Homo sapiens: one gene and its partner. The gene in region 2 interacts genetically with the main gene of each other region. Each region holds a gene or a part of one and is shown on either strand. Other genes may lie near its edges. The genes, in order: NOTCH1 and HEY1.

What was found.
Region 1: changes in HEY1 (region 2) and NOTCH1 together harm fitness more than expected from each alone (negative genetic interaction), as found in Homo sapiens cells (one study listed by BioGRID).

The regions. Positions count from the first base shown.
Region 1 is NC_000009.12:136,508,032-136,517,067, reverse strand, and holds part of NOTCH1 (neurogenic locus notch homolog protein 1 preproprotein), read left to right. Parts: intron 1-973; coding exon 974-1,087; intron 1,088-1,351; coding exon 1,352-1,585; intron 1,586-1,667; coding exon 1,668-1,778; intron 1,779-2,365; coding exon 2,366-2,558; intron 2,559-3,530; coding exon 3,531-3,676; intron 3,677-3,933; coding exon 3,934-4,047; intron 4,048-4,326; exon of another isoform or gene 4,327-5,796; coding exon 5,797-5,916; exon of another isoform or gene 5,917-6,038; intron 6,039-6,262; coding exon 6,263-6,415; intron 6,416-7,088; exon of another isoform or gene 7,089-7,106; coding exon 7,107-7,335; exon of another isoform or gene 7,336-7,595; intron 7,596-7,996; coding exon 7,997-8,198; intron 8,199-8,682; coding exon 8,683-8,836; intron 8,837-8,928; coding exon 8,929-9,036. UniProt on the Homo sapiens protein: Functions as a receptor for membrane-bound ligands Jagged-1 (JAG1), Jagged-2 (JAG2) and Delta-1 (DLL1) to regulate cell-fate determination.
Region 2 is NC_000008.11:79,761,289-79,776,505, forward strand, and holds HEY1 (hairy/enhancer-of-split related with YRPW motif protein 1), read right to left. Parts: upstream 6,480-15,217; 5' UTR 6,376-6,479; coding exon 6,287-6,375; intron 6,007-6,286; coding exon 5,931-6,006; intron 5,805-5,930; coding exon 5,721-5,804; coding exon of another isoform or gene 5,709-5,720; intron 5,445-5,708; coding exon 5,363-5,444; intron 5,188-5,362; exon of another isoform or gene 4,976-5,187; coding exon of another isoform or gene 4,915-4,975; intron 4,484-4,914; coding exon 3,900-4,483; 3' UTR 2,722-3,899; downstream 1-2,721. UniProt on the Homo sapiens protein: Transcriptional repressor which binds preferentially to the canonical E box sequence 5'-CACGTG-3'. Downstream effector of Notch signaling required for cardiovascular development.

The DNA of each region.
Region 1 (9,036 bases), on a different chromosome or scaffold from region 2:
CTGGGCCGTCTGCACCCCGGCCTCCTGAGGGGGGCCTGGCCGTGGATTGTGTCCCCTGCCCCTGGGCCGTCTGCACCCCGGCCTCCTGAGGGGTGCCTGGCCGTAGGTTGTGTCCCCTGCCCCTGGGCCGTCTGCACCCCGGCCTTCTGAGGGGGGCCTGGCCATTGGTTGTGTTCAGATTCCCAGGAGAGCGAGGGTTTTGCCTCATGAGTGGATGGGAGTGTTTTCAGACTTCCCCGAAGGAAGGGCAGGGCCCAGTGGGGAGTGGGAGCTTGCCCAGGGGTCGCGGTGGAGCCCAGGGCCAGGAGATCCTCCTTGATCTGGGTGCAGCCCCTTCTGCCTGGAGAGAAGGGTATACCAGGAGCTGCAGTGCCCAGACAGGGAGGAGGCTCCAGCCTGGCTTTCTGAGGGCTCGATGCTGGGAGGGAGGCCAGCCTGCCCTGTCCTGCCATGTCCCCTGCCCAACGGCACGCCAGCGACAAGGGTATGCAGAGAACCACGTGGGGCAGGTTGGCCTGCAATGGAGATGATGGCTGCCCGGGGCGGACTTGGAGGAACTCTCAGGGGCCTGGGTGAAAGGTGTTTCCATCTGTCCCAGAGCTGGGGGCCGGGGCGCAGAGCCCAGGGAGGCGTTGCCAGCCCAAGCCTAGGCTCCCAAGACATAGATTACCCGTCCCAGACACTGGAGCGAGGGGAGCCCCATTCTCAGCCCGGCTCCACTGTAGCCATAGCAACCCAGTCGGTTTGGGAAAAAGGCCCCTTCTGTGGGAGCGAGGGCGTGTGGTGCTGGGGGAGGGGCTTTGATCCGGGGAGCGGGCAGCGGGAGGCAGGGAGAGCTGGAGCTGGCTGAGCTCAGGCTGAGTGTGCCCTGGGGAGCCCAGCCAGGCGCTCACTGCTGGGGTCTGGCCAGGGGTCCCTGAAGGGCCATAGTGCTGTTGCACATGACTCCCTCCCCTCCCCTCCCCGGCCCCAGGCTTCACTGGGCATCTGTGCCAGTACGATGTGGACGAGTGTGCCAGCACCCCCTGCAAGAATGGTGCCAAGTGCCTGGACGGACCCAACACTTACACCTGTGTGTGCACGGAAGGTGCGGGCTGGCGCCCACCAGCGGGGAGGGACTGGGGACGGGACAGGGCACTCAGGGCAGTGAAACTGACAAGGTCATGGACACCTTGGTCTGGGCCACCTGGTCCAGAGGCCGAGAGCACAGCTCAGCCCCAATCCTGAGTAGGTGGGAATGCCACGCTCGGAGCCCTCCTCAGGTTGGCACAGGTGACCCCAGGTCTGGTCATGGGTGTCCCGGGGGCCGCCAGTCCTAAGTCTTCCTGTGCCCGCCCCTCCCACGGTCCAGGGTACACGGGGACGCACTGCGAGGTGGACATCGATGAGTGCGACCCCGACCCCTGCCACTACGGCTCCTGCAAGGACGGCGTCGCCACCTTCACCTGCCTCTGCCGCCCAGGCTACACGGGCCACCACTGCGAGACCAACATCAACGAGTGCTCCAGCCAGCCCTGCCGCCACGGGGGCACCTGCCAGGACCGCGACAACGCCTACCTCTGCTTCTGCCTGAAGGGGACCACAGGTGGCCGGCCAGGCGGGTGGCCGGCGGGGGGCCAGTGGGCAGGGCGGGCCTGAGGACTGACCGACACGTGCCACCCCTTCAGGACCCAACTGCGAGATCAACCTGGATGACTGTGCCAGCAGCCCCTGCGACTCGGGCACCTGTCTGGACAAGATCGATGGCTACGAGTGTGCCTGTGAGCCGGGCTACACAGGTGAGCGGCCCTGCACGTGGGGGCTGACTGCACTGTGCTCAGAGGTCAAGGTCAGCCACTCTGCCCTGGGGCTGCTGAGGGGTTGGGTGAGGGCTTTGGTGCTGCCCACCTGGGCAGACCGTGGTCTGCAGCAGAGATTGCAGCGGGACCAGGGCTATAACTGGCAGCACGATGGGTCCCCCCGACCCCTCTTGTCTCCGGTCAGAGCTGTCCCAGGCCGTGTTGGCAGAGTGGCCCAGCAGGCCAAGAGGGAGCAGCCAGCCCTGAGGCCAGGCTTAAGTACCTTCTGCCTCTGTGGCTCACCAGCACCTTTGAGCAGGTCCCTCTGCCTCTCTGGGCCTCAGATTCTCATCAGTCAGGGCTGCAGTAGCCCCTGCCCCTGGGGCCCCTGGGAGGATGACTTGAGTGGGCACTGGTGCCCGGGGAGGCTGGCACATGGCACATTGTGATCCAAGATGGTTTCTGACACCTGGAAGGATGTGGCCAGAAGGGTGATCGCCCCGGCTCAACAGACAGGGAAATCGAGGTTGACGTGGGTGGGACCCCCTGGGCGCTGGGCCTCGGAGTCTGACCCGCCCTGCCCTTAGGGAGCATGTGTAACATCAACATCGATGAGTGTGCGGGCAACCCCTGCCACAACGGGGGCACCTGCGAGGACGGCATCAATGGCTTCACCTGCCGCTGCCCCGAGGGCTACCACGACCCCACCTGCCTGTCTGAGGTCAATGAGTGCAACAGCAACCCCTGCGTCCACGGGGCCTGCCGGGACAGCCTCAACGGGTATGCGGCGGGGCCGATCATGGGGACACATCAGTCCTAAACCCTGGGAGCTCTGCTGCCAGGAGGGTGGCACCTGCACAGAGCTTGAGATGGGCCAGAAACGGGCCTCGGACGGGGCTGGGTGGCAGGGAGCTCCCCTCGGGGACGCACATGCCTCTGGGTCCTCAGTCAGACTACAGTCCACACCCAGCAGCTGTGTGCTGCGTGTCCTTGTGGGCTGCATGGTGTGCTCAGGACACAGGCCCACAGTGACCCTGGAACACGTTTCCATGGTAACAGCCGCAAGTGTTTCTGATGCCCATGATGTGCCTGGCAGCACTCTGCCTGGATGGGACCATTTAAATCAGCAGGGACCCCATTGCCCTCATTTGGCGCAGAGAAGGCACGTGCTTTGTTCGGGGCCACACAGCGGGCAAGTGGTGGGGGGCTTTTCGCAGCACCCTACTGCCCTGCACTTGGCATGGTCCCCTCGCTAATGAACCAAACCCCTGCCGCAGTCTTGGGTATGGGAAGCGCTGCGGCCCCCACTTTTTTCTTTATTTTGAGACAGAGCCTTGCTCTGTTGTCCAGGCTGGAGTGCAATGGCATGATCTCAGCTCACTGCAACCTCCACCCCTCAGGTTCAAGTGATTCCCCTGCCTCAGCCTCCCGAGTAGCTGAGATTACAGGCATGTGCCACCACACCTGGCTAATTTTTGTATTTTTAGTATATATGGGGTGGGGGAGTTTCGCCATGTTGGCCAGGCTGATCTTGAACTCCTGGCCTCAAGTGACTCAGCCACCCCCGCCTCCCAAAGTGCTGGGATTACAGGTGTGAGCCACAGCGCCCAGCCTGCCCCCACTAAAGGACTCTGCGAGTCTGAGTGGATGGGCACCTCCGCCAGCCCATAGGGCATTGCAGACCCGGGAGTGCCCAGGCCCCGGCCGTGCTGCTCGGGCCTCCCTCGACCTGCAGTGTGGTCCCCCTTGCAGGTACAAGTGCGACTGTGACCCTGGGTGGAGTGGGACCAACTGTGACATCAACAACAATGAGTGTGAATCCAACCCTTGTGTCAACGGCGGCACCTGCAAAGACATGACCAGTGGCTACGTGTGCACCTGCCGGGAGGGCTTCAGCGGTGAGTGGGCTGCGCGTTTCTCAGTGCAGAGGGCCGCCCTCGAGTCTGGGGAGCTGGAGACACAGGATCGGGACCCAGGTCCAGCCAGCACCATGCATGGTGTCTCCCTCCCGTGGCAAAGCCTTAGCTCCAGGCCTCTGGCTCTTGGAGATGAGGAGGGGCCTGGGGTGGGGAGCAGGCCCAGGGCTGCTGTTGTGGGGCCCTGCCAAGGTGCCTGGGAGTGCTGGACATGCCGAGTGCTGTCCCCTTCCCTCCAGGTCCCAACTGCCAGACCAACATCAACGAGTGTGCGTCCAACCCATGTCTGAACCAGGGCACGTGTATTGACGACGTTGCCGGGTACAAGTGCAACTGCCTGCTGCCCTACACAGGTGAGGGGTGGGTGGGGCCTGTGCTGGAGGGGGCGGGGCCTATGTGGGAGGGGCGGGACCTGTGCTGGAGAGGGCGGAGCCTGTGCTGGAGAGGGTGGGGCCAGGGGTGGGGGCGGCCTGGGAAGCCGTGACTGGAGGGTAAAGTGGTGGCTTTCTTGGGGCGGGGCCTTCCAGAAGGTTCTGCGCCTCACTGAGTGCCTTAGGCCCCTGCAGTATGTGGGCCTTCTCCCGGGGGTGGGGTTGGCAGATTAGCAAAGATACAGGATGCCTGGGAGAAAATTTTCATGCAAGCATGTGTTTTACCTGGCAAGCCTGCCGCAAGACACAGGTAAGATGCAGGTGAATCCTTAGCAGGGCCGGGCCTGGGTCACTGGGCTCCGTGCTCCCGGCGCCCACCCTGCTGGGGTCTCTGGGGGCCGGGCTTCCCCACCCCCGCCAGCCGGACCTGAGGGATTCCTTTGATGGCGGGCTCTCTTTGTGTGAGCGGAACAAGGAGCCCTCTGTTTGGGCTGAGCGGGGAGGGGGATGTTCCCCCAACTGTCCAGCCCCTGCTATGAACCCAGCCAAGGGGATCACAGGAAATGATCTCCTCTAGAAAAGACAAAGAAGAGTCCACAAGCACCGGGGTCCTGGCGCTCCCCAGGAGCGGGCAGAGGGTGCTGCCACGGGGCCTGGTCAGGGAGGGCCTGCCTGGGCCAGGCAGCCGGGCTGGAGGTCCCACGCCTGCGGTTCCCATGACATCCAGCAGCCTGTGGCCAGAACGCTGTTTTCTTTGACCGAAGTTAAGGACCTGGGTTTTCTCTCCTGTGTCAGTCAGTGAGGACCCTCCCTCCACGGCTGGGCGCCCCTGTCCCTTTCAGACACGTCGATCGGGCCGGCAGGAGGAGCGGCGGTGCTGACCCGCTTCCTATCTGCCCGCTTCCTGCTTCCTTTCGCACAATTGTCGGAAACTCTGGCGCAGTTCCTGCCTGCCCGGGTCACCGTGGAAACCAATAGGAAGAGAGGCCCTGGAAAGTCGCCCCAGCAGGCCAGGGAGATAATGGGGGACAGGGAAGATAACGCAGTCCCCACGGCTATAAACAGGAAGCTCGGCCATGGGCTTGTGCAGAAAAAGGCCCTCGGCTGTGCACGTGGTTCCCACATAGCCTTTGCCAGACACCCTGCGTGGCCCTGGAGGTCTCCAGGCCGTGCCCCGTGCCCCGACACGCAGGATGTGCTGGGGGCCTGGGCCTGTCCCCTCCATCGCAGCCCTTGTTTGTTGGCCTCCCGTGATGGGCGTTTGCTGCCTGTGACACGGAGCCCCAGGATTAGTTTCAGGCCTCGGTCTCAGGCCAGGGCCTTTCCTCGTCACCCAGAGATGAGGGGGCTTGCGTCCGGGGTGGGCCCAGGTCCCTGCAGTGTCGTGGAGCCCACCCGACTGAGGCCGCCTCTCCTGGTGCAGTCCTTGTTCCTGGGCACGCCTGGTGGGGTGAGGCCTAGGCTGTGCCCCGCTGCCAACCGGGAATGAGGGGTGGCTTCTGAGCGTGACATTTGTGCAGCTTGTCTTCAGCGTCCCCCCATCTGTGCTCCACTCCTCCCTGGGTCAGGGTCCTGGCACAGCCGGGAGCGCTCAGGGGTCTCGGTGCACATTTGCCTCCCGGCGGGACCAGCAGACGGCACTCTGATGGCGGAAAGACCAGCAGGCGGTGGCCGATTTGGGAGATCCCTCTGGGTGAGGCTCCCGGGGTCACGTGTGTCTCCTTCCCGCAGGTGCCACGTGTGAGGTGGTGCTGGCCCCGTGTGCCCCCAGCCCCTGCAGAAACGGCGGGGAGTGCAGGCAATCCGAGGACTATGAGAGCTTCTCCTGTGTCTGCCCCACGGGCTGGCAAGGTGAGGCTGGCCAGGGCCCGGTGAGGGCTGGGATGGGAGGTCAGGATGTCTGCGGGACACAGGCAGCTCCCAGGCAGGCTAGATGAGTCTTTGAAGAGGAGCTGGTGGGTGCTGAGGAGGCCCTGGTCGGAGAAGTTCTGGAATCAGGAATTGACCTGGGAGCACCGTTCCCAACTCCAGTTCCTGTGACCTTCTTAGGCCAAAATTAGGGGAGAGGGGATGGTCCTGGGGTCACGGAAGCCTACTCCTGGGTCGGGAGAGGCACTGTAGGTGGGTGGGCCAGCCTGGGAAGGGCCTGGAGGGCCAGGGGCCGCTGGTGACCAACCGGCCTCCTCCTGCCCCGCAGGGCAGACCTGTGAGGTCGACATCAACGAGTGCGTTCTGAGCCCGTGCCGGCACGGCGCATCCTGCCAGAACACCCACGGCGGCTACCGCTGCCACTGCCAGGCCGGCTACAGTGGGCGCAACTGCGAGACCGACATCGACGACTGCCGGCCCAGTGAGTAGCCCCGCGGCTCTGGCCTCCTCCAGGAAGCTCTCAGGCCTCAGTTCCCCCGGGCAGGGTTGGTGCGCATGGTGCTGGCCATAAGCACCCAGGGAGGCCGGAGTGTGGCCGGGGAGGGTTGGGTCAGGTGTGGGGGATGTGCTGAGGGATGGCCAGGGTGGTTCAGGAGGGCCCCAGAGCCGGCTTGCTCCTCCCTGCACTTCGCGGAAGAGTCACGAGAGCCCCTCCCACGGCTCTTCACTGAGCCGAGGATGGCTCGGGCCCGGCCTGCACTCCCGCCTGGCTCATCGGGCCCCGCTGCAGGCCAGGGCTCTCAGGCCTCCCAGCCCTGCTTCACAGAGGTTGAGGTTGGCAGAAGCCGGGGGTCTTGCTGGCATCACCTGGCAGGCAGAGGCAAGAACTGTCTCTCCTCCCCTGCTCGGTCTGTGAAGCCTGCAAAGCTGCCCCCTGCCCTGGAGCTTGAGGACAGGAGCAGGTGGGGAGAGAGACCCCAAGCACAGGAGACGGGTGTGACGCAGCCTGTGGGTGCTGGGGCTCCCCACCAGACACCTTTGTCACAGGGCTGCTTGCCGCAGCCTCGGCAACGAAAGGCTGGGCTGTCCCCAGCCATGCAGCCTTCCCGGCCCCCTCCCGCAGGTGTGGGTTTGTGCCTGCCCCTCACACTCACCCTTCCGTCCTCTCCCAGACCCGTGTCACAACGGGGGCTCCTGCACAGACGGCATCAACACGGCCTTCTGCGACTGCCTGCCCGGCTTCCGGGGCACTTTCTGTGAGGAGGACATCAACGAGTGTGCCAGTGACCCCTGCCGCAACGGGGCCAACTGCACGGACTGCGTGGACAGCTACACGTGCACCTGCCCCGCAGGCTTCAGCGGGATCCACTGTGAGAACAACACGCCTGACTGCACAGAGAGGTGTGCGGGGCTCGAGTGAGGCCGTGGAAGGGAACGGGCGGTGCGGGCCACACGCAGTAGCTGGCAGCCTGGCACACCATGCAGGCGTCCGCCTAGGCCGGCTGGGCACTTAGCGCTGGCTGCATTGAGTCCAGACATTGTTCATTGTACCGACCTGTCCCTCCTGAGAGGGCCATTGTGACCTCCTCCTGTGTCCCGCACCAGGAGCGCCGGTAGTCTGTCCTGAAGAACTGGTGCGCTTCCTTCTATTAGACAACGAGAACTCTGTCCGTTCTTGTTTCCTTTTTGCCGTGTTTGCCAGGAAGCTCATTTGGTAAACGTCAGTCTCGTCCCTGGTTTCTGACGTAATTACCTCCCGTGTTACCAGGACGGTTTCTGGTTTCTCCCTCATTTACTTTAACCACCCTATGCCCACGCGTTTGGTAAAACCACTCTCGACCTGACTTATAAAGAAAGCAGGGGAGGGAGGTGTGACGTGGTGTGAGAGCCGGGCCCCGGGTTCCCACTGGCCTCCCTGGGTCAGCCAGGCTGCCCTGGGCCTGTCCTGGCCATCAGGCCCCTAGGGTTGAGCAGAAGGGGAGGTGCTGGCGAGGCAGAATCTGCTGGAGCGGGGACCCACCAATGCCCTCCACTCAGCCCCCGCCTGCCCACCCCCTTGCAGCTCCTGCTTCAACGGTGGCACCTGCGTGGACGGCATCAACTCGTTCACCTGCCTGTGTCCACCCGGCTTCACGGGCAGCTACTGCCAGCACGATGTCAATGAGTGCGACTCACAGCCCTGCCTGCATGGCGGCACCTGTCAGGACGGCTGCGGCTCCTACAGGTGCACCTGCCCCCAGGGCTACACTGGCCCCAACTGCCAGGTGAGTGCGCCGGCCACAGAGGTGCCCGAAGGAGGGGCCCTGGGTGGGTGCCTACCTGCGGGAGGTGGGAACGGTCACCCCAGGTCCCACTGTGTCGGCTCGGGGTCACCCCCACACCCCCGGGCAGAGGGTTTCTGGGGATCTGAGCAGCCGGTGAAGGAACCTGATGCGGAAGCAGCAGGCACCTTCGTTTCAATCCCAGGTTTCTGGAGCCGGGGCAGGAGCTCAGGAATTGGGGAATTGAGGAAAAGTGTTCCTTCTAGCAAAGGCCGAGGGTGGTCTGGACCTGCTGAGGGCCCTGAGGGAGACCCAGCCCAGGCTGTTCCTGGTGTGGGGGTGGTGGGGAGTCCAGGGGCGGCAGTTTCCACTTCTGTAGAATGGGTTGCAGCCTGGGTTGGAGTAGGCCCCTTGGCAGATGTGCGTTCTGAGCTACCGGGGAAATGGCCGGGGCGCGGGCACCCAGCTGACCCCAATCTGTCCCCAGAACCTTGTGCACTGGTGTGACTCCTCGCCCTGCAAGAACGGCGGCAAATGCTGGCAGACCCACACCCAGTACCGCTGCGAGTGCCCCAGCGGCTGGACCGGCCTTTACTGCGACGTGCCCAGCGTGTCCTGTGAGGTGGCTGCGCAGCGACAAGGTAACCTGCTGTGCCCACCCAGCTCGGGTCCCAGCCCATCAAGGTCCTCTGTGGGCCTGGGCCTCACCTGTCTACCACCCCATCCCCCGCAGGTGTTGACGTTGCCCGCCTGTGCCAGCATGGAGGGCTCTGTGTGGACGCGGGCAACACGCACCACTGCCGCTGCCAGGCGGGCTACACAGGCAGCTACTGTGAGGACC
Region 2 (15,217 bases):
AAACTCTGCACGTAATCTTTACATAATATCACCTACAGCTGCCTAAAGACTGCAGTGTTGATTTTATTTTAGCTTATGTTTACCCATTTATTGTAGCGTATTCAAAGCACGGATGACAAAGATATTAGAAAATTCTAGCCCTCCAGAGAGCCATTCAGATTAGAGCCCTGGAAGCTGAGAAATAGTTGTTGCCCATGGCTCAGTCTTGCTGGAAGACAGGTTTTGGTGAATTAGTGACTAACCAATAAAAATTGGACAATTTCACATAAAAAATCCAAATTTGGAGATGCCTTTGGAAACTTGAAAGATCTGCTAACACTGGACTAAAATTTCTGCATAGGAACAATCGGCGACTCCTCAGCCAGACCCGGAGACAGAATGGGTGCTGGGAAAATATGACGTCCTCCCTGGGTCATCACTCACCTGATACCACTGCATTCCTCCCCAGTAGTGCCTGTCCCCGTCACATGCACCTGGAACCCTCACCCAGTCCAGCCACTTTGACAGATGAGGAAAGTGGGGTTCAGAGAATCATAATGACTTATCCAGTGTCACCCAATTAGGTAAAAGCAGGAGCCAAAAATCTTTCCAAGATGCTCTTATTCCCTGGGACTCCAGTTGTAAATGAAATTGGGCCACATTTGAAGCAGTGTTTCAGATGATATTAGCTCTGAAGTGATTTTAATTATAAATCATCACCAGAAACTAATGAAGGCATCAAAGCTGTGATACTGGTATAGATGGGAAAGGCTGGGGAAAAGTATAACTAGGAGATAAAACATTTCCTGAGGGATTTCAAATTTAAGTAATCTATATTTAAAATATCATGATTTTAGTGAGTCACAGAGTGGGGCAATGAAAACCTGGATAAAAATCACATCCTCATTTAACTAGACTGAATAAATTGGAAACAATTATTCCTTGGATTTTTAGAGGCTTTTTTAAATACAAGAATTCTGCCCATCTATCTACTTCATCATATTGATTCATGGTAATACATTAAATGAAAATAAATGAGTAATTATTGAAGCCCTTCAAGATTCTTTATAACCAATGATTTATTTTCCTTATAAGGTAAACTTATGCATTCTCTGAAAAAATTTTGTTTATACACTGGTAGATGTATTATAAATGTACATATAATACAAAAATATGCTGGCCCTGATAACCCTGGTGTTATTTTTTTCCTAATTGCATCAACAGAATAGAAATGGGAGTTTTCCTGAATTAATTTTTCTATACACTATTGGTACATAGTCATACTCCATCCTGCTTCCTAGGAAGCTCACACTCCACCTGCACCATCCTCAGATACTTTTCACCTTGAAAGGGCTTGAAAAGAAACCAGAATATTTCCATGGAAAAGTATGTAATCTGGAAATGAACTGCCACGCCTCCCGCTAACCAGATATAGCGATCACTGATGAGACAAGTGGAACATGCTACATGTTTTACAGTTCCACAGCTCTTTCAGCAGAGCCAGCAAATGAGAGGCTTCACTTCTTACCACATTAGCAGCCATCTAAACCTATGTAACAGTAAGAGATAGTCGAAGTACAATGCTGTTCAGTAATGCTGTAATGTCATTGGAAATCGCGGTTGCTAAAATTAAACTGACACTTGGCAGAAATTAGCATAACACTTTCCATCACAGCCTTATGACAGAAAGAGTGTCTGTGTGGCACAGGCAATGCTGAGAGCAGAGCTGTGCATCACAAGAGGGATCGACGTCTGAGGCCATGCAGAGAAAGCTTTGAAGGGATTGGAAACCCACAATCACAAAAATGCTGCAGTCTCCCATCCCTTCACAGGGACACAGAAGTTGAAGCTCAAATTCAAACTCCAAACTTCTCTTTGTCTTCTGACTGTGTTTTTTCACCAGATGGGAGGAGGGGCTCCGTGTTTGGGCAAAGCAAAGGAAGGCTTTATTTTATCATCTGCCAGCATGGGTTTTCTCCGTCTCCTCCCCACCGCCCTCAGGATCAAGACAAACTCCTTAGGAGCACTCCTTAATTGGCACAGGGCTATTTTTAAGGCAATGGGAAGACACTCCTCTCCCCTGGGGCCCAGAATACGCCCTCCATGCTGGCAGTGTTTTGTTCTAACCTAAAGCATATGTCAGCTTCCTCACTACACAGCTCAGGAGTCCAGTGCAACTAAAGAGTTAAATTCCTTGGAAATAAGACCAGTGAAGACTTCTGGAGCTGTGCAGGTGCAGAATTACAGCCTGCCACTGCTCATCAGGCCACAGAGTCCCGAGCCCCTACATTTGGGTCTTCTTGTTTTGCCATTTAAAAAAAATTAATAAAAGAAATAAATTTCCATTCTCTCAGCATAGAAATGAGCACATAGTAGGTACTCTCAGTAAATATTTGTCAAATAGTCAACACGGTTTTAAAATATTTCATCCAAGCTCCTTTCAACCCCTGTAAGTCTCAGTCTGATTTCAGCTTTCCTAATCCACAGATGGCCAGTTTAGGGCCAGATCATCTGACATAAGAGCAAAAGGGCTATGTCCCCTTGTAGGAGGCAGGGCAAAGCTCTCTGCATTGTAATGAAGTCACCTTATTCAACGGCACGAATTCACACAGTTTAGAAGTCCAAGAATAATGAAACTGGTAAACATACAAACCAATCAGGCAAAATGAAAACCAAGGAAAGTTTATCTTTTCTTAGCCAAGAGGGGGAAAGGCCAAGGTATGTAAGACATACACCACAGAATACTTTGTTCTTTCTTTTTTATTTAGTCACAACACATCAGTACAACAGAGGTCAAACCCAGTTCAGTGGAGGTCGTTTAACTACACCTGCTAAAAGAATAAACCTGAAAAATGATATTTTATAGCCCAAATCAAATTAAATAAATCAAAGAGAAGGAGGCAGGAAAGCCCTTTTAAATACCTTGGCAACCACAGTTCCATGCACCAAAAGGAAAACTCACATAAAAATTTCCAGTTAAAAGAAAATATGGCAGTCCCAGGAAAATTAGGTTATGCATTTAACAGTTTCCACTGTACTACTCAATTGACCACTCGCACACCATGATCACTTATCCATGTTAACATTTGTGAATTTGAGATCCGTGTGATTAAAAATTCTTTGTGTTGCTGGGGCTGGTAAATGCAGGCGTATTCTATTCAATTACCTTCAGTTTCCTTTCCACCAACACTCCAAATGAGACCTAACCTATCAGCGGCTCTCTCCTAACTAAATCAGAACTGCCAGTCCTGGCAGATACCAGCAGCTGGTCAGATGGATTCAGGGCCACCAACAGTTTGTACATTCACCTTTCTGCTATAGGAGGCAGACAATTTACTAGTCTTCTTTCTTGGATAAAGCTGATCATCTGATTTGTCAACGCTTTGCTCAGAAATATAAAATTCAATATAGTTCCCCTCCCCCCAAAAGAATATTATTTATACAACACCTTAATCTGTCAAAATATTAACAAACAGAATCATGTTAACATTAAGCATAGTGGTTTGGAAAATTAATTCTAAAAACAGACCATAACTATACAAGGAGAAAAACAGACCAAAAATACTAAATGTTAAGATTCCCCAAATTTTGAGGCAAAAACGGAATCATTCTGGTTTACAAAGTAAATTAGGCACAGTACAAACCTATCACAAAGTGTTGGCTTATACTCACTATTTCAATTTAATGTCTTGAACAAAATTTAACAACTAGTTTTTAAAAACTGCTAATACATGACATGATGAAAAAAACATTAAAAAAGATAAAAGTAAACCAACAAACCTTTAGTCTTTAAAAAAAAAATTATCTGAAAGTGTACCTTTTTCCTTTTTACTTTTACTGACGACTTTAAGGTGATGTTGGCAACAGTCCAGCCCAGCTGGGATTTTAAACTTTCCCCTCCCTCATTCTACATCAGTTCTTTAAAAAGCTCCGATCTCCGTCCCCCAAGGTCTATAGGGCTTGCCAAGGTTTGCAGCCTGCGTGGGTGCTGAAGGGCTCAGTGCATTGGGAGACAGTAAGTGGAAGGAGCCGAAAGAGAAGGGGAAGGCCGACAGGGAGGCCACTGAGGAGAGCAGAGGCGGCGACAGTTTGGAGGCGGAGGTGACCACAGGGAGCACCGGTCCGAGGCTGCCGCTAGGGGGCGCTCGCAAAGCAGGCGCCTCCGGATGTGCCGAGCCCAGCCTGCCCTGGTGGTGCGGTTCCGTGGGTGAGGCCGTGGTGCCCGCGTTCCCGTGGCCGTTCTGGGGCAGCAACAGCGGGTGCGCGATGTGCGGGTGATGTCCGAAGACGGTCCCCCAGGGAATGTGTCCGAGGCCCGCGTGGGCGCCGCTCGCGGCTTCCCGCTGGGAAGCGTAGTTGTTGAGATGCGAAACCAGTCGAACTCGAAGCGGGTCAGAGGCATCTAGTCCTTCAATGATGCTCAGATAACGCGCAACTTCTGCCAGGCATTCCCGAAATCCCAAACTCCGATAGTCCATAGCAAGGGCGTGCGCGTCAAAGTAACCTAAGCAAAAGAACAAAAGAAAAATCTCAGGGCTTTGCCCGTTTCCCTCATTTCTTAAGTCCCAGAGACAGCCCTTCCTGGCAGATACCTGCATCCCTTAAAACACAACAGTCAGGGGTTCTTCCGAAAGTCTTTGGAATCAACAAAAATCTTTGCATTAATCAACATAAGCAGAATGTGTTTGCTAATGCAAGTTCAAAGCCCAATTAGAAGCTGCAGAGCAGAAATTGGAATTATACCCTACCAGCAGATGAAACTATGTTCATTCCTTTAATGTTTTCCCTCAACAACAACAAAAAATACATCAAGGGCAGAGAAACCACAGAGCAGTGAAATTCATTAGACACACAGATGTAAGTTATCATCGCGGAGCTTTTAGGCACTTGGACCTCAGTAAAGCATTTTCCTGCTGGAGAGACATACACACAGACCTTGGTCTCCCGTTAGGTTTCCTTTACTTAACCAGAATACATTTCTTTCCTCAAGAGGCATGTGGCAGCACCTTTTTTTTAAAATCCCGTATACCAAAAATAAGACCACATATTGTTTTTAAATGCTTTTTCTCAAAATAGCAATGGACAAATGTGAAAGCTACCTGATCTGAATCAGGGCTGTCACAACTTTTGAAGACCTCACAAATAATAGGTATTTTTCCAAAAGATGCACTAGCTCAATCCGCAGAGAGCTGGGGTGGTGAATTCACTGGAGAAGATTCTATGTGCATTCGAAAATGTACTGACAGGGAACTGCACACACCACACACCGTTCTCTCCCCACCCCCAAAGAAAAATCAGGCAGCTACTGCACCAATCCTGGCCTTCAGCCGCTGCTCACTCTTTGCCAACCATTCAGAGCCCCCACTAGGTCTAGGAGATGTACCTTTCCCTCCTGCCGTATGCAGCATTTTCAGGTGATCCACGGTCATCTGCAGGATCTCGGCTTTTTCTAGCTTAGCAGATCCCTAAAGATGAGAATGGCAAAAGATTGATTTGGCACAAGTTCCTTTGGGGAACAATTTAAAATATGCAAACATATATACAAAGATACATGCTTTGTAAATCGTAAAGCATGGACTAAAGCAAAATCAGTTGTCTTCACAAAATACGCTGGTATCTGTGTACGAATTCATCTAGGCACAAGCAACACAGCTATTTTCCAAGGCGGATGAGATTAATGAGGGGAAGATTCAGAAGGTGCAGATAGCTATGCTGAGAGCTTTACCTACTTGCTCCATTACCTGCTTCTCAAAAGCACTGGGTACCAGCCTTCTCAGCTCAGACAAACTGTTATTGATCCGGTCTCGTCGGCGCTTCTCAATTATCTGCAGAAGGCAAGCAAAACAAAGGAAGGCATTACCATTACGACTGTAAATTTCAAAGACAAAAAAAAAGGTGGTTATTTCCGTTAATCAATAACAAAAATAAAAGGAGAGTGTAAAGAGACTCACTCCTCTCCGTCTTTTTCTGGCCAAAATCTGGGAAGATGTAGTTGGGGACATGGAACCTAGAGCCGAACTCAAGTTTCTGAAAAGAGAAAAAGAACAAACAAAAACTGAAATCGCCGTTAAACGAGGAGAGGTGATCTGAGAGGTCGCCCCCACACCCTCCCCGCACTCAGACTTTTTTTGCCACTTGGGCTGGAAGGCACCTAGGGGTTCCCTGGCCGCAGGCTGCCGCCAGCCTGCGACGCGCGGAGGTCAGCGCAGGGCACCGGCGCGCCAAGGGTCCTAGCCCGCTGTCACCGCGGCAGGCCTGCGCTCGCCTCCCGCTCTGGCTCGGCTCCGCTCCGCCGCCGCCAGCTCACCCATTCTCGTCCGCACTCTCCTTCTCCACCTCGATGGTCTCGTCCAGCTCGCTGTCCGAGGAGCTGTACTCGGGGTGAGCTCGCTTCATGCTGGCTCCCTGGGGGTTCCTGGGGAGGGTCGGCGCGGCGGGCAGGGAGGAGTTAACTACAGCGGCGCCTCTCCGCTCTCGGCTGCTTGCGTTCCGCACACACTGATCCCGCTCACGCTTTGCCTCTGGTTAAAACTCAACCATCCTTTCCCACGCTGAGCCCCTTCCCAGGGCCCTGGGGAGGGCGGGGGAGTGGGGAAGGCGGGCGAGGGGGCGGAGAGGCGGGGCGGCAACTCCAGGGCAACAGCCGCCCCCCGGCCAATCCGGTTTCTCGCGCCGCTGATTGGCAGCCGCTCCGGGGAGGGGCGGGAGCGAGGCCGAGGGCTCTAGCGGACCGCGCCCCCGCCCTCCGCGCCCGCCCCTGCCCGGCGGCGGTGCGTCGGCTCCGCGGGGGCTCTGTCCAGCCTGCACTCAGGGGAAGGAGGAGGCGCGGGCGGCGGGGAGGCGCGGGAGGCCGGGCCGGGACACAAGCCCGCCGGCGGCCGCGGCTCCTCCCCGCCCCGCGCGCCCCGATTGGCCTGGCCGCGCGCCAGGGCCGAGCCTGCAGCGCCTCCGGTGAGCCGCACGCGCCGCGGGCCGTGGGAAAGTGCCGGCGCCGCGGCCGCCAGCCAATCCGGGCGGCCGGCGACGGCGACGGCGGCGGCCGCGCTGGCGGCGGCGGCGGCGGCGCTGGGCGTCCGCATGAATGGAGAAGAATGGGCAGGCGGGGAGCCGGGCCGCGCGAGGGCGCGCCGGCGGGGGCTGGGCGGCCGCCGGCCGGGCCCCCAGTGTGAACCTGTAATCGGAGCCTGGGCGCCGGCCGGCCTCGGAAGCCGCCGCCTAGCGCCACCGTAAATCTCGCCCGCGTGGCCGCCAGTGCCCGGCGGCTGGAGGCGCGCGCTGTTAGTGGGGCCGTGCCGGGTGCACCTGGCCGGGCTGCGCGCCGGCGGCTCCGCGGAACCCGCAGGGAGCCGGGAGAGGGGGCGCCGGGCGCGTCCACAGTGGCCACCAGCCCAGGGGCCGGTCACATGGAGGAGCAAGCTGTGGGCTCAGGGGACGCTCTTTTTGATTTCTGGGACCGAGGCCGCACATGCAGCCAGACTCGTTTCCGCAGGGGCTTCCCAGCCGCGGAATGGAATGAATACCCCTGTGCATCTCATTTCCGGGGAAGGGGAGCACTTGTTTTTTCGGCCGCCTTGGGGAAAAAAAAACCCAACGGTCCCTGGGAATAATCATTATGCTGGGATTTTTTTGTTGTTCCCCCGCTGCCCCCCCCCCCGCCCCCTCCCCCCGGCGGCCAGATCCTCTCAGCGGGCGACAGGGTGGCGGTGCTGGCGTTTGCGTCTGAGGCCGGCCTTGCTGAGGGAATGCACGTCTCTGGCCCCAGACACACACCTCTGGCTTCGGTGGCTTGGCGTGGCGTGTACTGGGTGCCACGTGAAGTCCCCCCCGAGTCCACTAAGAAGACAGATTTTTTAAAAAATACAGTTGTAAATCTCGAAACTGATTTCTGATTCCAGAAACAGAATGGTTGTTTTAAATTTGAAAATCCGGTCTTCTGTCCCTTACAAAGGTACACAGCAATTCGCATTCATCTCAGATCCACTCTGAAGCTTGTAGTCCTGTCTGTGAGGGAAAGCTTAATATCCATCGGTGAGAATAACAAAAGGCGTTTTCTCTTTGCAAAAAGCTTCCTGGTTTCTAGACTTCCTTATTGATCTCAATGCTATTTTTTTTTTGAGATGGTGTCTCACTCTGTCGCCCAGGCTGGAGTGCAGTGGCGCGATCTCGGCTCACTGCAACCTCCGCCTCCCGGGTTGAAGCAATTCTCCTGCCTCGGCCTCCCCAGAAGCTGGGATTACAGACGCGCGCCACCATGCTCAGCTAATTGTTTTTGGTATTTTTAGTAGAAACGAGGTTTCACCATGTTGGCCAGGCTTGTCTCAAACTCCTGACCAAAGGTGATCCGCCTGCCTTGGCCTCCCAAAGTACTGGGATTACAGGCCTAAGCCACCGCGCTCGGCCTCAATGCCATCTTAACACATCCTGGATGCCAAGCACTCTGAGTGGCCGGCCTGGGCCTAATCCATAGTTCCTCTCTGGGCACCCCCATCCCTCCACCACCGCCCCCAACGGGAAATACAACCTCCTGGCTCCCACTGAAGCTTATTCCACTTCACATCACCTCCAGCCCTGAGCCTTTCCATGCAGCCCCTCTGCTTCCCTGTCTAGGCTGGGCCCTTCCATCAGCCAGCCTGGGTTTGTTGCTGCTGGCACCCCAGACCTCTGGCTTCCTGAAACTCCACCGCATGCTGCCTGTTAGTTGTCAGTCCGAGGTCAATCCCACCAGCCGACTTTCTCTCTGGAAGTGCAAATTTTAAGGCTCCTTCCTGGCCCTCCCAGTCTTCAGTCCAGGGCATCCATCACTACTTCCTGCCTCTTCCCTCCCAGAAACTGATGGTCCAGGCATAGGAAACCATCCCACCTGCTCCCCTCTGCCTTCCAGAAGTCCCTCTGACCTTCCATTTCTTTCCCCAAAGTGACAGGCCACCCTTCCCCAGAACCAACGTGTCTACTTCCCCTCTGGCTCTATAGATTTTCCCAGCCTCTGGCACCTACAATGAGTCAGCCTTTCCTGCTTTGGCTCATTTCTGCTGCTGTGGAGAGGCGTGGACAAGCTGCAGATGTTGAGTGAGACGAGACCGGGTGGGGTTAGGGATGCTTAACTCTACATTGGCATCCAAATGAAATATTGCTCACATGTTCATGATTACTTTTATGTCAAAAAGGAGGTTCTCTACGGCCAGGCGCAGTGGCTCACACCTGTAATCCTAACACTTTGAGAGGCTGAGGCAGGAGGATTGCTTGAGTCCAGGAGCTCCAGATCAGCCTGGGCAACATAGCAAGATCCCCATTTCTTAAAAAAGAAAATTAAAAATTAGCCAGGCATGGCATGCACCTGTAGTCCTAGCTTCGTAGAAAGCTGAGGTGGGAGGTTTGCGTGAGGCCAGGAGTGCCAGACCAGACTGGGCAACACGGCAAGATCCCCATCTCTAGAAAAAATTTAAAAATGAACCGGGCATGGTGGCCTGTGTCCTAGCTACTCTGGGGGCCGAGGCTTGAGCCCAGGAGGTCAACGCTACAATGAGCTATGATCATTGCACAGCACTCCAGCCTGGGTAACAGAATGAGACTCTGTCTCTAAAAAAATTACAAATGAGGTTGTCTTGCTTCTTAAGTTTGACTGATTTTTCAATGCTTCCAATAAATACGTATTCTTCTATGTGCCATGTGCTGTGCTAGGGCCTGAAAACACAAAGGTGACCCAAAAGTCATCCATCTTGCACTCCTAGAACTCACATCCTAGGGAGAAGACAGAGAATACACAGTAAAGTAGTTATGGATGCTCCAGTGCTTGGAAGCACTTGTTGGTAAGGAAAAACGAGGGGGTGAGGATTCTTTATGAGGTCTGGGAAGGCCTGTTCTGAGTTTGGAAGGGACTTAAGATCAAGAAGAGGTGAACTAGGTGGTTCAGTAATAACCGGGAAGGAAGGGGCGGAGACCTCTTCCTTGAGTGGTGGGATCAGAGGAGAGAGTTACACTGAGGGCACCAGGCCCAATTTTCTCCCATCTGCTGTGTAGAAGGGATTTACCCCTGGAGGCTTTGAGTGAAGAACGACTTTAAACATCTTTGCTACCCTGAATGAAAGGTACGTCCTGCAAATTGACCCCTTCTGCAACTTAAATGGGACTGCCCAGGCCTGGCCCCTCAGGAAAAGGACCTTTTACCATTTGGGGGTGGGGAAGTGGGCAAGTGTTGCCTTTTATAATTCGTCTCTCCTGAAGAATCACCCTTTTTTATTTCGCTCAAAGGCCTATTTTCTTGCCTGGTTTGTAGAGTCTGGGTTCAGTTACTTAGCTTACCGTTCCGCAGGCTGCTTTTATCTGCGTTCCCTTGCAGAAGAGATACTCCAGATGTCCTGGAAGAGAGAGACACTCCAGATTTAGGAATTCACTCGAAAGGCCAGGCCCAGGTGAGGGCCTCCCCAGAGGAAAAGTGGTAGAATCTCCAGGGAGGAACAGCTCATCCTCAAACTCCAGCTGCAGCATTTCTCTATGAACGAGGCTTAGGGTGGCCAGCTTGTTGGAAGGGATGCAACCAGTAGCTGGGTGTGAGACTGGCCTTGAGGAAGCCCCAGTCGTCAATTATTCATTCATTAGAGCTTTGGCCACTGTGGAGGTCCCTACTTGGATACCCTTCATGAGGCCCTGTCTCTGTCAGTTTGCTGGTGGGTGCAGGTGATCTCAATTGAACAGGCATGGGACATAGTGCTCAGGAGGACCAGAGGCTACACCTGCAGCTCTGAGAAAGAAGGGGCTGCCGCTCTCTCTAACCTCTTAGTCTAATTGCTGTACCATTCTGAGGCAAAGGTCTTTGTCAAAACAAGTTTTAGGTAAAGCTAGCCAGTGGCTGGCTGAAACCTTTAGGGCTTGCTTGCTTATGTACTTGCTTGACAAATTTGTATAAAGCCCCTAGTCTGTGCTGGGCACTGAGCCAGGCCTAGAGCAATCAGGCTGAAAAGCCACAATCTCTATCAAGCTGCTCACAAGTTCTTCTTAGCTACATGATATTTAAGCCTCAATAATCTTATCTGTAAAATGGTGATATTGGCTGGGCGCAGTGGCTCGCGCCTGTAATCCCAGTACTTTGAGAGGCCGAGGTGGTTGGATCACGATGTCAGCAGTTCAGGACCAGCCTGACCAATATGGTGAAATTTCGTAGATATTTTTATCTACTAAAAATACAAAAATTAGCCGGGCGTGGTGGCGCACACCTGTAATCCCAGCTACGTGGGAGGCTGAGGCAGGGGAGTCGCTTGAACCTGGGAGGCAGAGGTTGCAGTGAGCCAAGATCGCGCCACTGCACTCCAGCCTGGGCGACAGAGTGAGACTCCGTCCGTCTCAAAAAAAAAAATGGTGATATTAGTAATAGTTATTTTCCAATGTCACAAATTAAATATGATCAATTATATGAAGCACTTTACAACAATACTTGGCCACTAGTTAGCACCCAATAAACAGCATCTGCTATTATTGGCTTTTAATATACCTTCTCTGCCCATGAGTATATAAACTCTGAGCACTAAGTTACTTTTGTGTTTTCTTCTGATACTCTGTTACACGTCTAATGAGGTTGAAAGGCAGTATAAATAATTATGTAGTAATTGGATATATTAACAGAATCTCTAGAAAGTAATATCCTTTTAACATCAGGAGAAGGAAACAGTGCTTCTTGTTAAGAGCACTAGATTATTTTGAGTAATATAAGCATCTGCTATTCATTATTAGTGAAAGTTTTGCTTTTTGAATCTAAGAAACATCTCCTGAGCATGTAGCGCTATAATACATGTATAAGTAAGGAGTGTACTCATGGAGTTCAGAGATGGCTCCTTCATGAGAACACAAGGAATTTTGACTAAGTGACAGTTTTCCTTTGTTCCTCATGCTTGCTGCTTTCTCTAGATGCAGCATCTCAAACACCAGATTGCTTTGTGGCATGTCATGCCATGCAAAAGTGCACTTCCACTATCAACTTTCCTAATTGAGGTCAGATGTGAGATGCCTTGGTGTTTGCCTTGAAGGAATTGTTTAATTGGAACCCTAACAGGCAGTGGTATGGTACAGTGGAAAAAGCAGGGATTTCAAATCACCTGCCTGGGTTCAAGTCACTCTTTACTAGCTGTGTGACCTTGAGCTTATCATCACACCTTTACCCTCTGAACCTCAGTTTCCTCATCCATAAAATAATAGCTCAGCGTTCATTTTGTTTTTCAAAAGATAAGATGAGACAAAGCATTTTTTCAAGTGCCAAACAAATGTTATGCCTTATGCTTTTAAGTTACGGTGATGATGATGATGATGTGAAGAATATGGGATGCTTCTTCCTGAGCCTTGCTGGACCATCAAGGCTGGAACTCCTGGCCTTCTTCCTGAGCCTTCCTGAGCCTCTTGTGCCTGCCAGTGAATTCCCTCACAATGAGCAACTCCATCTTTTAAAATATACATATATATACATATATATATATTTAAAATACCAACATGCATTTCACAAAACATTAATTTCTCAAGATGCTTTGTAAATAAAAGAATCTGTTTCCAGATACATCTGGAAAACCACCTGTAAGATCTCGGGGCACATTACAGCATGAAAAGCTCAGAGACATTCTTAGTAAAGAAGCCTTATTTACATTTGTCTAACCCAGCACTTCCCAAACTCACCAGTTACAGCACCTTTTTTCTTCACATAACATGTGCTAATATTCCATTGAAACGGCATACCAAGGAACACACTTTGGGAACTTGTCATAGCGTAAGGGTAGATGCATTTTGCTTTTGGTTAAAGATGACTGACCCACAAAAAAATTAATCACAAATGAAAACCAACTTAATACAAATTATTACTAAGTGCTGAAATATAACTTTTGCTGAGTAATTTATCGTCACCCATCCCCCTCCCATCCCCAACCCTTCCGAGTCTCCGATGTCTATCGTTCCACAGTCTGTGTCCATATGTACACACTATTTAGCTCCCACTTATAAGTGAGAGCAAGCATCTGACTTTCTATTTCTGAAAGTTCTTTGCTGACTAATCAAAGAGACCAATTACTTAAAAGTAATTTATATTACCTTTTAAATACTTGTAATAACAAACACCTTCATAGCACTTCATGGCACCATATACCAGAAACAGTTTTTAGAACTTTACATATAACTGATTGAATTCTCACAGCAACCCAGGAAAAGGGAGGTATTATTTTCTCCAGTTTTAGAAAAGGAAGCCTATGCAAAAGGAAGTAAGAGATTTGCCCAAAGTTGTATCTGAATCTCTGCCATTGGTTTGATTCCATGACACCCTCTTTCCCTCAAAGAATAATTTACAGTGTATTCTTTTCTCAGTTAAAATGATACAAACATTAATATACAGCATACTTTTCTCAATTAAGCTAATTAAAATAGTAATTTGCAGAATATTTTCATACTTTAAATAATTCAACTAGTTTTTATTTTTACACGTCCAAGACAGCTCGAGATATAAATGAGATAAATCTTAGGGTGTCCTAAAGCAAGCTGGAGAATGTCACTCCCTGGACTTTGTACCAAGTTGCATTTAGTGGAAGTGAAGCCTTGTTTCCTAGGTAGCCTGGATGCTGAAATAATACTGCAACAGTTGGGGTATATGACTTCTTTGGATTTGGTTTTCAAGTATTTCATAATTTACTACTTTTTATGTTCTTAGATATTTATTATAAATAAATCCAAAATGATTTTAAATTATTAAAGTTTAAAGTATATGCCTTTGGCACCACTAGAAAAAAAAACTTGAAAGTATAGCAGAAAGTTCCATGTGAGCCCCAAACTGGAATTCACAGACTCTACATCTTTGAAACTAGAGGCTGCTAATCCACTAAGTGATCTGTTTGCCTGAACTGATACACACTGGAGCTTTGGTTTTAAGTTGAAAAGTTGTTTTTTGTTTTTTTGATATTTTTACCTTTTGACTCAGGAGCACAGGGCAGAAAGGAGGGAGAAAAGAATTGAGGGAACAGATTTTTTTTTCCTTTTTTTTTGAAGTGTATAAATTTAAGGGGTACAACTGCAATTCTGTTCCATGGCTATATTGTGTAGTGGTGAAGTCTTGACTTTTAGTGTATCCATCACTCAAGTAATGTACATTGTACCCAGTGAGTAGTTTCTCATCACCCATCCCCGTTCTGTTCCCCTACTCTTCTGAGTCTCCTTGTCTATCATTCCACACCCTATGTCCATGTGTACACATTATTTAGCTCCCATTTATAAGTGAGAACAAGCATCTGACTTTCTGTTTCTGAGTTGTTTCACTTAAAGAGAATGGCCTCCAGTTCCATCCTTATTGCTGGAAAAGACATGATTTCATTTTTTATGGATGAATAGTATTTCATTATGTATATATACCACATTTTTTAATTCAGTCATCCATTGATGGACACTTAGGTTGATTCCATATTTTTGCTATTGTAAATAGTACTGTGATAAATATATGTGTGTAGCTATCCTTTTGATATAATGATTTCTTTTCCTGAATATATACCTAGTAGTGGGATTGCTGGATCAAATGGTCATTATTTTTTAGTTCTTTGAGCAACCTCCATAGAGTTTTCCATAGTTGTACTAACTTATATTCCCACCAACAGCATATGAGTTCTCTTTTCTTTATATCCTCACCAACATCTGTTATTTTTTGACTTTTAATAATAGCCATTCTGACTAGTGTAAGATGATATCTCATTGTGGCTTCAATTTGCATTTCTTTGATCATTAGTGATGTTGAGCTTTATTTCATATGCCTGTTGTGCATTTGGATGTCTTCTTTGAAAAATGTTTATTCATGTCCTTTGCCCGCTTTTGAATAGGGTTATTTGTTTCTTGTTGTTGTTGAGTTGAGTTCCATGTAAATTCTGGATATTAGTTCCCTGTTGGATGCATAGTTTGCAAATATTTTATCTTGAGAGGATAGATTTTTGAGTCACATTAGAGAAAAGGCTTAGCACCAAAAGCTGAAGGAGTTATTTATATGGGAGATAATTCTGGTAAAAAGTAACAACAATAATAATGTTACATCAGCACCCAGGTGACAGTATGCTGCGGAGAACTGGGACAGGTTAATTCTGTGCCACCACCCCATGCCCCCCACACACATGTGCATACACACTGCCAAATGGCACTCTGAGGGTACATGGTGATGACTGGAACTTAGCTATAGAGGCAGTGCACAGGCCTTCAAGATGAAGATGTCATTGACAAACAGCATTGAACATCAATGAGG